Homo sapiens: one gene and its partner. The protein of the gene in region 1 interacts with the protein of each later gene in a biochemical or structural test. Each region holds a gene or a part of one and is shown in the gene's direction. Other genes may lie near its edges.

The links. The genes of interacting proteins can lie anywhere in the genome.
Region 2: the proteins of GAK (region 1) and CCNG1 form a complex in vitro, tested with the Homo sapiens proteins (one study listed by BioGRID).

The regions. Positions count from the first base shown.
Region 1 is NC_000004.12:866,257-873,379, reverse strand, and holds part of GAK (cyclin-G-associated kinase), read left to right. Parts: exon of another isoform or gene 1-79; intron 80-154; exon of another isoform or gene 155-312; intron 313-2,475; coding exon 2,476-2,669; intron 2,670-4,694; coding exon 4,695-4,841; intron 4,842-5,947; coding exon 5,948-6,424; intron 6,425-6,845; coding exon 6,846-7,016; intron 7,017-7,123. UniProt on the Homo sapiens protein: Associates with cyclin G and CDK5. Seems to act as an auxilin homolog that is involved in the uncoating of clathrin-coated vesicles by Hsc70 in non-neuronal cells. Expression oscillates slightly during the cell cycle, peaking at G1.
Region 2 is NC_000005.10:163,440,595-163,445,516, forward strand, and holds the end of CCNG1 (cyclin-G1), read left to right. Parts: intron 1-483; coding exon 484-737; intron 738-1,291; coding exon 1,292-1,370; intron 1,371-1,450; coding exon 1,451-1,549; intron 1,550-1,779; coding exon 1,780-1,971; coding exon of another isoform or gene 1,972-1,974; intron 1,975-3,079; coding exon of another isoform or gene 3,080-3,146; 3' UTR 3,147-4,422; downstream 4,423-4,922. UniProt on the Homo sapiens protein: May play a role in growth regulation. Is associated with G2/M phase arrest in response to DNA damage. May be an intermediate by which p53 mediates its role as an inhibitor of cellular proliferation.

The DNA.
Region 1 (7,123 bases):
CTCAAGGCATCTCAACAGTGGATTAAAGTGGGAATCAGTGACAGGAAAACACCCAGAGACCGTATGCTCGTTAAGTGACCTGTGTGCCAAAAAGGAAATCACTGTTGAAATGAGAAAATATTTTAAACACATTGATAATCAAAATACCACTTACCAGATGTGTGGGGTGCATCTGAAGCAGGGTTTAGAGGAAATGTGTAACTTCAAATGCATACATTAAAAGGAAGAAAGGTTGGTTGCGCACAGTGGCTTACAGCTGTAATTCCAACACTTTGGGAGGCAGGAGGATTGCTTGAACCTGCGAGATCAAGGCTGCGCTGTGGGCGAGAGGCGTGTTCCCTGCGTGGTGAGCCTGCGCCGTGCCTGGGCGAGAGGCGTGTTCCCTGCGTGGTGAGCCTGCGCCGTGCCTGGGCGAGAGGCGTGTTCCCTGCGTGGTGAGCCTGCGCCGTGCCTGGGCGAGAGGAGCACAGGGTTGCAGCCATGGCACAGATGTAACAGCTGAGCCTGTCAGGAGTCCGCTCTGCCCTGTTGGAGCTAGTCTGGCAGGAGCCTGCGGGCAGTGTCCTCTGCAGTCCAGGGCTCTCGGGAGTGGCCAGCCCTGCTCACAGACCTCATTGTGCCCTCAGCGCCAGGCTGGGTGAGCCGAGCCTGCAGGCCCAGTGCCCAGGGCCATCTCAAGGGGCAGCTGGGGGAGGGAGGCTGGGCATGAGCGGCACTCCCTCTGGGGCTGCCCAAGTTCGGTCTGTCCCAGGACCCAAGCCCGTCTGGCCGACCTGGCTCCCTGCACACTCCCTCCCTCCGTGCCCCTCCCACTGTGCCTCTCCGCCCTCGGTCGTGGCCGGTCTGAGCCTCCGCTGCGGTGGCCGTCGGATTCTCTGCTGGTGCCTGCAGGCTCCTCTGCAGACGTTGCCTCCTCCACATCTCCACGCCAGCTGTGCCACCGCTGTGCAGTCCCTGCCACCCCTGACGACAGACAGCGGCACGCAAAGAGGCTCGGGCGCAGGGGGAAGCTCGTGTTGGCCCCGGCTGGAGTGCACATCAGTCCCGGCTTCGGCCGTGGCCACCTCCGCCCAGAGCCTTGAGTGGGCATTGAGGGGGCGCTGCTCTGCGTGAGGTTGGCCACCCCTCAGGGCGGGCACAGGGTGCTCTCCCCTCGTGCAGGGAGAGGATGTTTTAGAGGGTGAGCAGGAAGGGGTGAACTAGAGGCCTTTCACACATCACAGGCATGTGTGGAGCTCAGAGAAGTGACAGTTAAAACCAGCCGTGGCTCTGACCCACACAGGCCGCCGGGCCCGTCTCCCTGCCCTCCCTCGGCGGATCCCACTCTGCTCTGGGTGTTCCTGGCCCTGCAGACACTGGCAGCCTGGGTTTCCCAGGAACTGGCCGCCACTCTTTTGTGTTTCTTCTTTATTTTCTTAGGTGTATAACATTCAACATGTAGAGATTTTAGGTGGCGTAAAATAAGACAGGCATGGGGAGCCTGCTGCCCGCTGGAGAGCCCAGGCTTATCAGTGCAGTTTATGACAGTGGGATCAGAGATGATCATAGGAAATGTGTGAAATAGCCTGGAATTCCTTAGAGAGCTGTGGGGCTGGGAAATGGTCAGTGTCAGGTCACACCTGCCTCCCCGTGCGGCCAACACCCCAAGGCGGGCCCTGCTGACCCCTGCCCCTGCTCCCCACCCACATGGCCGACACCCCAAGGTGGGCCCTGCTGACCCCTGCCCTGCTCCCCACCCGCACGGCCGACACCCCAAGGCAGGCCCTGCTGACCTCTGCCCTGCTCCCCACAGCTCAGCCTGGGCTGCCTCCCCAGCCCCACAGTGAACACAGCTTTGTTTCCCCCGGAATCATGTTCCCAATTCCCTGGCAGCCGGATTCTAGAGGTCTTGGTTTTATGGGCATCTGTTGACAGTTGTGGATTTTTGTCAGGGCGGACGTCGTCATTTTTATGGAAAACACATTTAGTATCCCAGAGTGCGTGCTCTGAGCTGCCGGGTGGCTGCAGTCTGTGTGTGCTGGGTAGTGAGGGCCAGCGCCTGCCTTGGAACCCTGGGGTCCCACCTCAGAGCTGCCTGCCTGGGTGCCGGAGTCTCCAGCTGTGGGATGTTGTCCCGTCTGCTCTGAGCACGTGGCCTCCCCTGGAGTTGCAGGAAACATGGCGGCCCCGCCCGGTGCCCCTCTGCCTTGAACACAGTCGCGGGCATCCCCACTGTGACGTCCGAGGAGCGAGTGAAATGATGCTCTTCTGGGGCCGTGACCGGGGGTGCTGGTGCCCTGTGGGTTCCTGGGACAGCTGCTGGGTCAGCTCACAGGGCTCCAGCTTCCGCAGGCGGGGGTGGCCGGCTGCCCTGGTTGTTCTCGCCCCGCTGCCTGCAGCTGCCACCTGTTTCCATGCACGTTTCTTTAGTGAATGTCCAAGGACTTACAGACTACTTGGGTGGCCTTCCTAAGTGGTGTCTACTTGTAACCGCAGGTATGACCTGGACGCGTGTGACATTCAAGAAAAATACCCGGATTTATTTCAAGTGAACCTGGAAGTGGAGGTGGAGCCCAGGGACAGGCCGAGCCGGGAAGCCCCACCATGGGAGAACTCGAGCATGAGGGGGCTGAACCCCAAAATCCTGTTTTCCAGCCGGGAGGAGCAGCAAGACATTCTGTCTAAGTTTGGTAAGATCCCGCAGGTGAATTAGGTGAACCCTGTTCTGGTGAGTGTCTCTGTGGAGAGAGACACCTTTGGCTGAGCTCTGGCAGGGCTGGGCCCCACGCCTGCTGCTGCACCCAGGCCCTGAGCAGCTTGGGCTGCAGGAGGTTTTGGAAACTCCGTCGTGGATGTTGGACACCACCACCAGCTACACCAGAGAAGGACTCGCAGGCTGCAATTTCTGAGGCCCATGGGCAGGGACGGAGGCAGAGGGAGGAAAACCCAGGCTCCTGGAGCGAAGCGGGGTTTTGTCCCAGGCGTGTGTCTGGGTCAGATTTTTGTCATGTGTGCTGGACACACGTCCACTCTCACTGTGAGCCTCAGGCCTGCTGGCAGCATGTGGAACAGAACCCTCGCTCCTGTCGCTCTTCACTTCCGAGCAGTTTCGAAACGGCAGCCCAGGAAGTGCTGGCAGGTGGGCCCAGGGCCGTCCACTGCTCATGCCACGCTTGTTCTCGGCTCTTGGTTTGCAGTGTTTGCTTTTTCTTTCTGAGCATCTTCAGCGTCCCTGAAAGAGGCTGTATGTGTGACCTGTGCGTGCTGTGTATGTGTCCGTGGGTGGTGTGTGCCGTGTGTGTGTGTGCACGAGTGGTGTGTGCATTCATGTGTACTGTGTATCTGTGTGCTGTGTGCATTCGTGTGTACAGTGCATCTGTGTGTGCTGTGTGTGCGTTCGTGTGTACCATGCATCGGTATGTGCTGTGTGTGCGTTCGTGTGTACCGTCCATTTGTGTGTGTGCATGCATGTGTACTGTGCATCCGAGTGTGTGCATGTGTGTGTACCGTGCATCTGTGTGCGTGCATTCATGTGTACCCTGCATCTATGTGTGCTGTGTGCATTCATGTGTACTGTGCCTGTGTGTGTGCATTTGTGTGTACCATGCATCTCTGCTGTGTGTGCATTCGTGTGTACTGTGCATCTGTGTGTACTGTGTGCATTCATGTGTACTGTGCATCTGTGTGTGCTGTGTGTGCATTCATGTGTACCCTGCATGTGTGTATGTGCTGTGTGTGCATTCGTGTGTACTGTGCATCTGTGTGTGTGCATTCATGTGTACCCTGCATGTGTGTATGTGCTGTGTGTGCATTCGTGTGTACTGTGCATCTGTGTGTGTGCATTCATGTGTACCCTGCATGTGTGTATGTGCTGTGTGTGCATTCGTGTGTACTGTGCATCTGTGTGTGTGCATTCCTGTGTACCATGCATCTGTGTGTGCTGTGTGTGCATTCCTGTGTACTGTGCATTTGTGCTGTGTGTGCATTCATGTGTACCGTGCATCTGTGTGTGCTTTGCATTCGTGTGTACCCTGCATGTGTGTATGTGCTGTGTGTGCATTCGTGTGTACTGTGCATCTGTGTGCTGTGTGTGCATTCATGTGTACTGTGCATCTGTGTGTGTGCTGTGTGTGCATTCATGTGTACCCTGCATCTGTGTGTGTGCTGTCTGTGCATCCGTGTGTACCATGCATCTGTGTGTGCATTCATGTGTACTGTGCATCTGTGTGTGCTGTGTGTATTCATGTGTACCCTGCATCTATGTGTGTGCTGTCTGTGCATTCGTGTATACTGTGCATCTGTGTGTGCTGTGTGTGCATTCGTGTGTACCCTGCATCTGTGTGTGTGCATTTGTGTGTACTGTGCGCCTGTGTGTGTGCTCTATGCATTCGTGTGTACCGTGCAGCTGTGTGTGTGCATTCATGTGTACCCTGCATATGTGTGGCGTTTGATGCCTCAGTGGTGGGTTCCTTGTGCGTGTTCATGTGTGCGTGTGCTGTGCCCAAGTGTGCACGCATGGCCCAGAGTGGCATCCGAGTGGATAGCAGGAATCTGTTCAGAGAGCCCCTCCCCGTCATGTCATTGGTCTGCTTTACCGATGGCCTGGCCTGCCACGGTGCTGGCGCCCGCCTGGCTGCACTTCCCAGCTCTGGGGTCAGTGTTGCCCCGAGGCTGCTGGCCAGTGCCAGTGCCCTGACGCCCTCCCTCTCCTGCAGGGAAGCCGGAGCTTCCCCGGCAGCCTGGCTCCACGGCTCAGTATGATGCTGGGGCAGGGTCCCCGGAAGCCGAACCCACAGACTCTGACTCACCGCCAAGCAGCAGCGCGGACGCCAGTCGCTTCCTGCACACGCTGGACTGGCAGGGTAGGCAGCGTCCCTGGACCTGGCCACTTGCAGAGGGCAGGCCCCTGGTCTGGAGGTGCCCCTGGGGCAGGGCAAGCGTCTTGGGAGACGGGCCTCCGGCAGAGCTGAGTTGCACCTCAGTGGGGCTGTGCACCCGGCATGTCAGCCTGTTCTTTAATGGCTCACGAGCTAAGAATGATTTCATATCTTTTTAAAGGTGAAAAAAAAAGAACATGCCCACAAAGTCTGAAATAACAACCCTCGCTCTTCATCCCAGTCTGTGGGCCTGGGGAGGCTGGCAGCATGGGCCATGCTGGCGGGGCCCCTGGGTACAGGGGAAGGGCCTGGGCGGAGGGACAGACTGTCACCACCTGGGGATCCCACACCTCTCTTTGCCCACACCCCCAGTGGGCTCCCAGCCCCTCTGAGGCTTTTCAGGAAAACACCTGGGCGCCATCACTGGACCTCACCCCAGACACACCCCAAGGGATGCACCTGCCACTTCCTGTCCCAGCACCCCTGGCCTTCCCATCGGGCTCGTCCCTTCTGCCGCCTGTTCCCAGAGCACCCTTGATTGGTGTTCCTACCCCCTAGTGCTGCCATGTGGCCCCCACTTGACTCAGCCTGAGGCACCGCAGAGGCCCAGGCGGAGAGAGCCACAGGCAGACCCTTGAGGCAGAGGCTGGAGGTGGGTGTGCTGGAGACGCCTCAGGAACAACACCCCACCGCCCGCCCAGAAGCTTCTGCAGCACTCGCCAGGGCCCTGGGCCAAGGAGGCGCTGAGGGGCCGTGCCATGGGGACATTGGTGCTGGCCATGTGGGTTCGCCAAGGCCCTGGGCTGAGGGGACGCGCCGTGGGGACCCTGGTGTTCCTGCAGCACTTGCCAAGGCCCTGGGCCGAGGAGGTGCCGAGGGGCCATGCCATGGGGACCCTGGTGCTGGCCACGTGTGTTCACCAAGGCCCTGGGCCGAGGAGGCCCTGAAGGGACGCGCCGTGGGGACCCTGGTGCTGGCCACGTGTGTTCACCAAGGCCCTGGGCCGAGGAGGCCCTGAAGGGACGCGCCGTGGGGACCCTGGTGCTGGCCGTGTGGTCTCACTAGCCTGTGGTTTTGTTTCCTTTTCGCAGAAGAGAAGGAGGCAGAGACTGGTGCAGAAAATGCCTCTTCCAAGGAGAGCGAGTCTGCCCTGATGGAGGACAGAGACGAGAGTGAGGTGTCAGATGAAGGGGGATCCCCGATCTCCAGCGAGGGCCAGGAACCCAGGGCCGACCCAGAGCCCCCCGGCCTGGCAGCAGGGCTGGTGCAGCAGGACTTGGTTTTTGAGGTGGAGACACCGGCTGTGCTGCCAGAGCCTGTGCCACAGGAAGACGGGGTCGACCTCCTGGGCCTGCACTCCGAGGTGGGCGCAGGGCCAGCTGTACCCCCGCAGGCCTGCAAGGCCCCCTCCAGCAACACCGACCTGCTCAGCTGCCTCCTTGGGCCCCCTGAGGCCGCCTCCCAGGGGCCCCCGGAGGATCTGCTCAGCGAGGACCCGCTGCTCCTGGCAAGCCCGGCCCCTCCCCTGAGCGTGCAGAGCACCCCAAGAGGAGGGCCCCCTGCCGCTGGTACGTGTTTCTGTTCTGAAGGCGAGTGGCTTCACAGTAGATGAGTGATGAGGCTGAGTCATTCTCACTGCATGGGCGTGTTTCGAAGGTGCTTGCAGGAAGGGAACGTGCCCTTCCCCCACCTCCCCCAGGAGCAGCCTCGGGGTCATGTCAGGGTTCTGTGCTGCCCACCTGAGCTCACGGGCCGGGAGCTACTGGCTTCTCCATCTCAGCAGTGTTGCTGTGTCCCTGGGAAAGTCATCCTGAGGCGTGGGGCACGGGGAGCCCCTGGGCTGACTGCCTCAGTGCCCCTGCGAGGGCAGCCGTGGGGTCTGGGCTGCCCAGCTGGAGTGGCCTCTTGGGCAGGCCTGACTCCAGAGCTGGGCTCCTTTGTCTTCAGGCAGCCGGGCTGAGTCCTCCCCATGCCCGCCTGTCCCCACAGCTGACCCCTTTGGCCCGCTTCTGCCGTCTTCAGGCAACAACTCCCAGCCCTGCTCCAATCCTGATCTCTTCGGCGAATTTCTCAATTCGGACTCTGTGACCGTCCCACCATCCTTCCCGTCTGCCCACAGTGCTCCGCCCCCATCCTGCAGCGCCGACTTCCTGCACCTGGGTAAGTGCCTCTCGCCTGGCAGCCAGCTCTCCATGGCCGCCTCCCTCAGGACCGCAGCCTCTGGTGGGAAACAGAGCTGTGGGTCTCAGGCAGTGGTGGGGCTGGAC
Region 2 (4,922 bases), on another chromosome or scaffold:
ACTCTTAGAGGCAGAGTAAACAGTATATGCCATAGTATTTTAAAACTGTTTTATATGTGTTCCCACAAAGACAAGAGCCTGGAAAAAATACAACATCCTGCAAAGAAATGGCTTATTTTGTAAATAAGCCATAAAGTATTTCAGTCCTCATATATCTTTGACTAGTTAACTTATTTGATCAAACTAGAACAATGTTTACTTATAGTTCTACAGTGATTAATAAAAACACACTTTTTCTATGCTGAGCCAAACATTATACTGAAACTCAGTCCAGTTACTCAAAAATTGGTTCTAAGTGGGGTCCATAGTGTTGACAGGCTATAGTTTAGGTATGAGTGGATTGTGTTAAGTCCATCACAGCTGAGAAATAAACCTCAAATATACATTTTCAAAATGTTGGGTCGGAGTTCTAGATTATCCTTTATGTTTTAATTGAAATAAGGTAGAGTCATGGGCTTACTGGTTTTGTTTTTGATTTTTTAGGTACAGCCCAAGCACCTTGGGTGTGTTGGACTGAGCTGCTTTTATTTGGCTGTAAAATCAATAGAAGAGGAAAGGAATGTCCCATTGGCAACTGACTTGATCCGAATAAGTCAATATAGGTTTACGGTTTCAGACTTGATGAGAATGGAAAAGATTGTATTGGAGAAGGTGTGTTGGAAAGTCAAAGCTACTACTGCCTTTCAATTTCTGCAACTGTATTATTCACTCCTTCAAGAGAACTTGCCACTTGAAAGGTAAGTGACCTTTGTTTTGAACAAGAGACATTTGGAAATCAGAATGGTATTGTATGGATATTGCATAAAATCAGTATCCTCATAGAATTCTAATAAAAATAAGTAAAATGACAGCTGTGGCTCCTTGAACTTTAATGTCCATCATAAGTGAGAAAATGTTCCATTGTCAATAGCTTCGTTAAAGCTAATTCTTGGGATTAAAGTACATTTTGACTTTATAGAACCTAGTAGGAAAGCATCTAACACAAATTTATGGAAAAAAAGGACCTTCAGTGGATGTTGAAATATTTATTAAAACTAAAAGAAAATAAATCTTGTATTTGTGGCATAGTACTATTCATTTTAATTTTTTGGCCCAAATCATCTAAAACTCCCATATGGTGCCTTTAGAAGTTAGTATCTCTGATGGAAGGGGAATTCCTTTCAATAGTTCATTTGCTATGTTAAGTGTGCATAAGCTTTACTTTAAAAATTGACTTCAATGTTTTTCTAAAAACATCTTTTGACTAGATGTAGTATTACCTAATAAAAGTAATACCATTTTCTTTTTAAAGGAGAAATAGCATTAATTTTGAAAGACTAGAAGCTCAACTGAAGGCATGTCATTGCAGGATCATATTTTCTAAAGCAAAGGTAAATATTTTATAAAGATTATGCCTATTGATATGATCTGTTTTTATATTTGGCATTTACTTTAAATTTATCTCTTTTAGCCTTCTGTGTTGGCATTGTCTATCATTGCATTAGAGATCCAAGCACAGAAGTGTGTAGAGTTAACAGAAGGAATAGAATGTCTTCAGAAACATTCCAAGGTATGTGAAGGACATAGCCTAAATCCTATTAACAGCTGTAAAAGAAACTAAACCCCTTCTATCTCCTGAAGTAAAATGAGATGTCATATGTTTATTTGAAACTTAAGTAGCTATCCTCAAATGTTTTTAATGAGCAAAGACACATGTTCATAGGATTGCATTTATTAATGTAGTTAAATAAGGTGGGACTTACTTGGAGTAATAATTTTTTAAAATTTATGTATGTACAGATAAATGGCAGAGATCTGACCTTCTGGCAAGAGCTTGTATCCAAATGTTTAACTGAATATTCATCAAATAAGTGTTCCAAACCAAATGTTCAGAAGTTGAAATGGATTGTTTCTGGGCGTACTGCACGGCAATTGAAGCATAGCTACTACAGAATAACTCACCTTCCAACAATTCCTGAAATGGTCCCTTAACTGGTAAATTTGGTCCGTTATTATTCTCCAGATAGAGAACATTTTCCAATGCCATAATTTTCAACTAAAGAAGAGTAATTATCTTCAAAATAAACAAAATGGAGTTGGAATAGTAAAGGGGGAGATGACATCACTGATCTAGTCAGCTAATATTTGAAGGCCTTTACTATATACAAGGTACAACATCTTAGGAGTAAGGAATTATCCAACCTCTGATACATACGTTAGCCATTTCATTAAATTTTCAGCTTAGAGAACAGCATCCTCCTTGTAGCACTAAAATCATGCTTTTTTTTAATTGCACATGATCTTGCTGTATGTATCTGACTGATTTAAAATTACATAAGCTGAGCAGGACAACAGCACCAAAAGTCTGAACCAAGTATGAACTAATTTGAGACTGTTAGCTTATAAGCAAAATCAATATGAACTTGGATATTGTACTTAAAAGAAAAAAAAGTAGGCCGGATGCAGTGGCTCACGCCTGTAATCCCAGCACTTTGGGAGGCCAAGGCGGGCGGATCACGAGGTCAGGAGATCGAGACCATCCTGGCCAACATGGTGAAACCCCGTCTCTGCTAAAAAATACAAAAAAATTTAGCCAGTCGCGGTGGCGGGCGCCTGTAGTCCCAGCTACTCGGGAGGCTGAGGCAGGAGAATGGCGGGAACCCGGGAGGCGGAGTTTGCAGTGAGCTGAGATCGCGCCACTACACTCCAGCCTGGGCGACAGAGCAAGACTCCGCCACAAAAAAAAAAAAAAAAAGAAAAAAAGTAGGATATGATAGATGGTCTCTACATTGGGTATCTGGAAACTGCCAGAGTGTGTCAACACTATACTAACCTATCATTGCTATAGCAGCTGGACTACTGCAAAGTAGTTATATGCATAAAAAATGTAAACTTGCTTTCTGCATATGTGATATACATTCTTGCCATATAAATTTCCTAACTCAGTGATGATTTATTCTACTCAAAACTAAATGTTAACATTTAATACATCTACATGTGATTATGAATATTAGATATGAACATTTCAATTTTCTTAGTAGTATTTAGGCAGACTGGCTTCTGTTAAGTTGGATTTTGTTTGTTTTCTTTATTTAAATAGGATTATTACAGCACCAAAAAACTTCTCTGAAGCCTTTCTCCACAACCTTGTTCTATGGATTCCATAATGTTACAATGGATTTAAGCTATGAAGCCTCAAAACATCACGAGATAAGCATGATGGTCTCAGACTTGGGAAAACTGCCTAATATTATGCTGTAGTGGAATTATGTTTAGATTTGAATTCATCTGTGAAGCATTCAAATCAAAGCTAAAAGCCTAAATGTGAAATGCTAATGACAAGCCTGAGAAGGTAAACTGTGAATCTTCATTTCTATCATTGATCTAACTTTAGATATTGGATCAATATATTTAGGTGGTATTGAAAATGCTATTGGAGGAGTCACACTAATACTATCAACTATCAGTCTTCCCACAGCTTCAATCACTGTCATTATTCTAATCCTACTCCTACTTAAATTTTAAGTTATGAGGTTTATGTCAAAAGCAACATTTCACAAATGTACTTTTAAGGCATAATAAGGGTTAACATTCTAGGCAGTATAAACACACCCCATAATGCAAGTAATAGGTAATCTAGAGATGTGGACTTTATTGCTATATGGGAATTACATTTAAATTTGAGGGCATTTTATATAAAGAAAAATACAGACCTATAAAGTTTGGCATATTCATTAAGTTATCTTTTAATATTTTTTTCTAGAAAACAGGTGACATTTGTATCTACGATAAAAATTTTTATACAGAACCTACTGCCTCAAACTGAATCCCATCAAGAAAACTAGTTTCTATTGTATTAGTAACTCAAAATAAATTATCACTTCGAAAACTTGCTTTCCCACACTAAGGTAAGTTCAGACTAGATTGAACACTCCAGAATTTTTTACTACAGACTGTTTTTAAGTTAGAAGTGATGGCAATTTTATAAATAGAGAATATACTTCCACTGATGCCCTTACTGTGCCAAAACAAAAATCTTAAGAAAAGCAAGTAGACACCTTCATAACTATGAATGAAGCTGCTGAAGTAGTGTTTAGGATCCTCCATGGCAGTTAGTGAATGTAAGAAGTACAGTGTTAAAGTGTTGTAAACAGTTACTCAGTGCAATGTATAGCCTGAGTCTATCCATGATGGCTATATCCAATTTGACATCACGTTATGGATCAGTACACAATGAAAAACCAAAGAACCACAGTATATCTTATTCTTAACTTTTGTAAACCATGTTTTATGGGTAACTTTTTAGTTTTCCCAAAAGGCTGATAAATTTCAATATTTTGAATACATCATTGTTAATTTTGAGTTGGCAGAGGTAAACTAACCAACTACCATTATGTTTTAGTACTAAGGGATATACCTTTCAATAAAGTTAATGAAATTCAATCCTTTGCTGGGTGGCTTTTTTCTCCTCTGATTTAATTAACTCTTTTAGCAATGTGTTAACAGAACATTATAAAAAGCTATCTCTACTCAGTATATTTAAATTTAGTACTAAAGTTAGATGCATAGTACCAGAAACAATAAAATCCCTATTAATAATATGACTATTAGATGACACTTTACTTTGTTTTTTCTGAAACATTATAAAAAGCTCTCTCTACTCAGTATATTTAAATTTAGTACTAAAGTTAGATGCATAGTACCAGAAACAATAAAATCCCCATTAATAATATGACTATTAGCTGACACTTTGTTTTGTTTTTTCTGAAACATTATAAAAAGCTCTCTCTACCCAGTATATTTAAATTTAGTACTAAAGTTAGATGCATAGTACCAGAAACAATAAAATCCCTATTAATAGTATGACTATTAGCTGACACTTTACTTTTTGTTTTTTCTGAGACAGGGTCACTCTTGTCACCCAGGCTGGAGTGCAGTGGCGC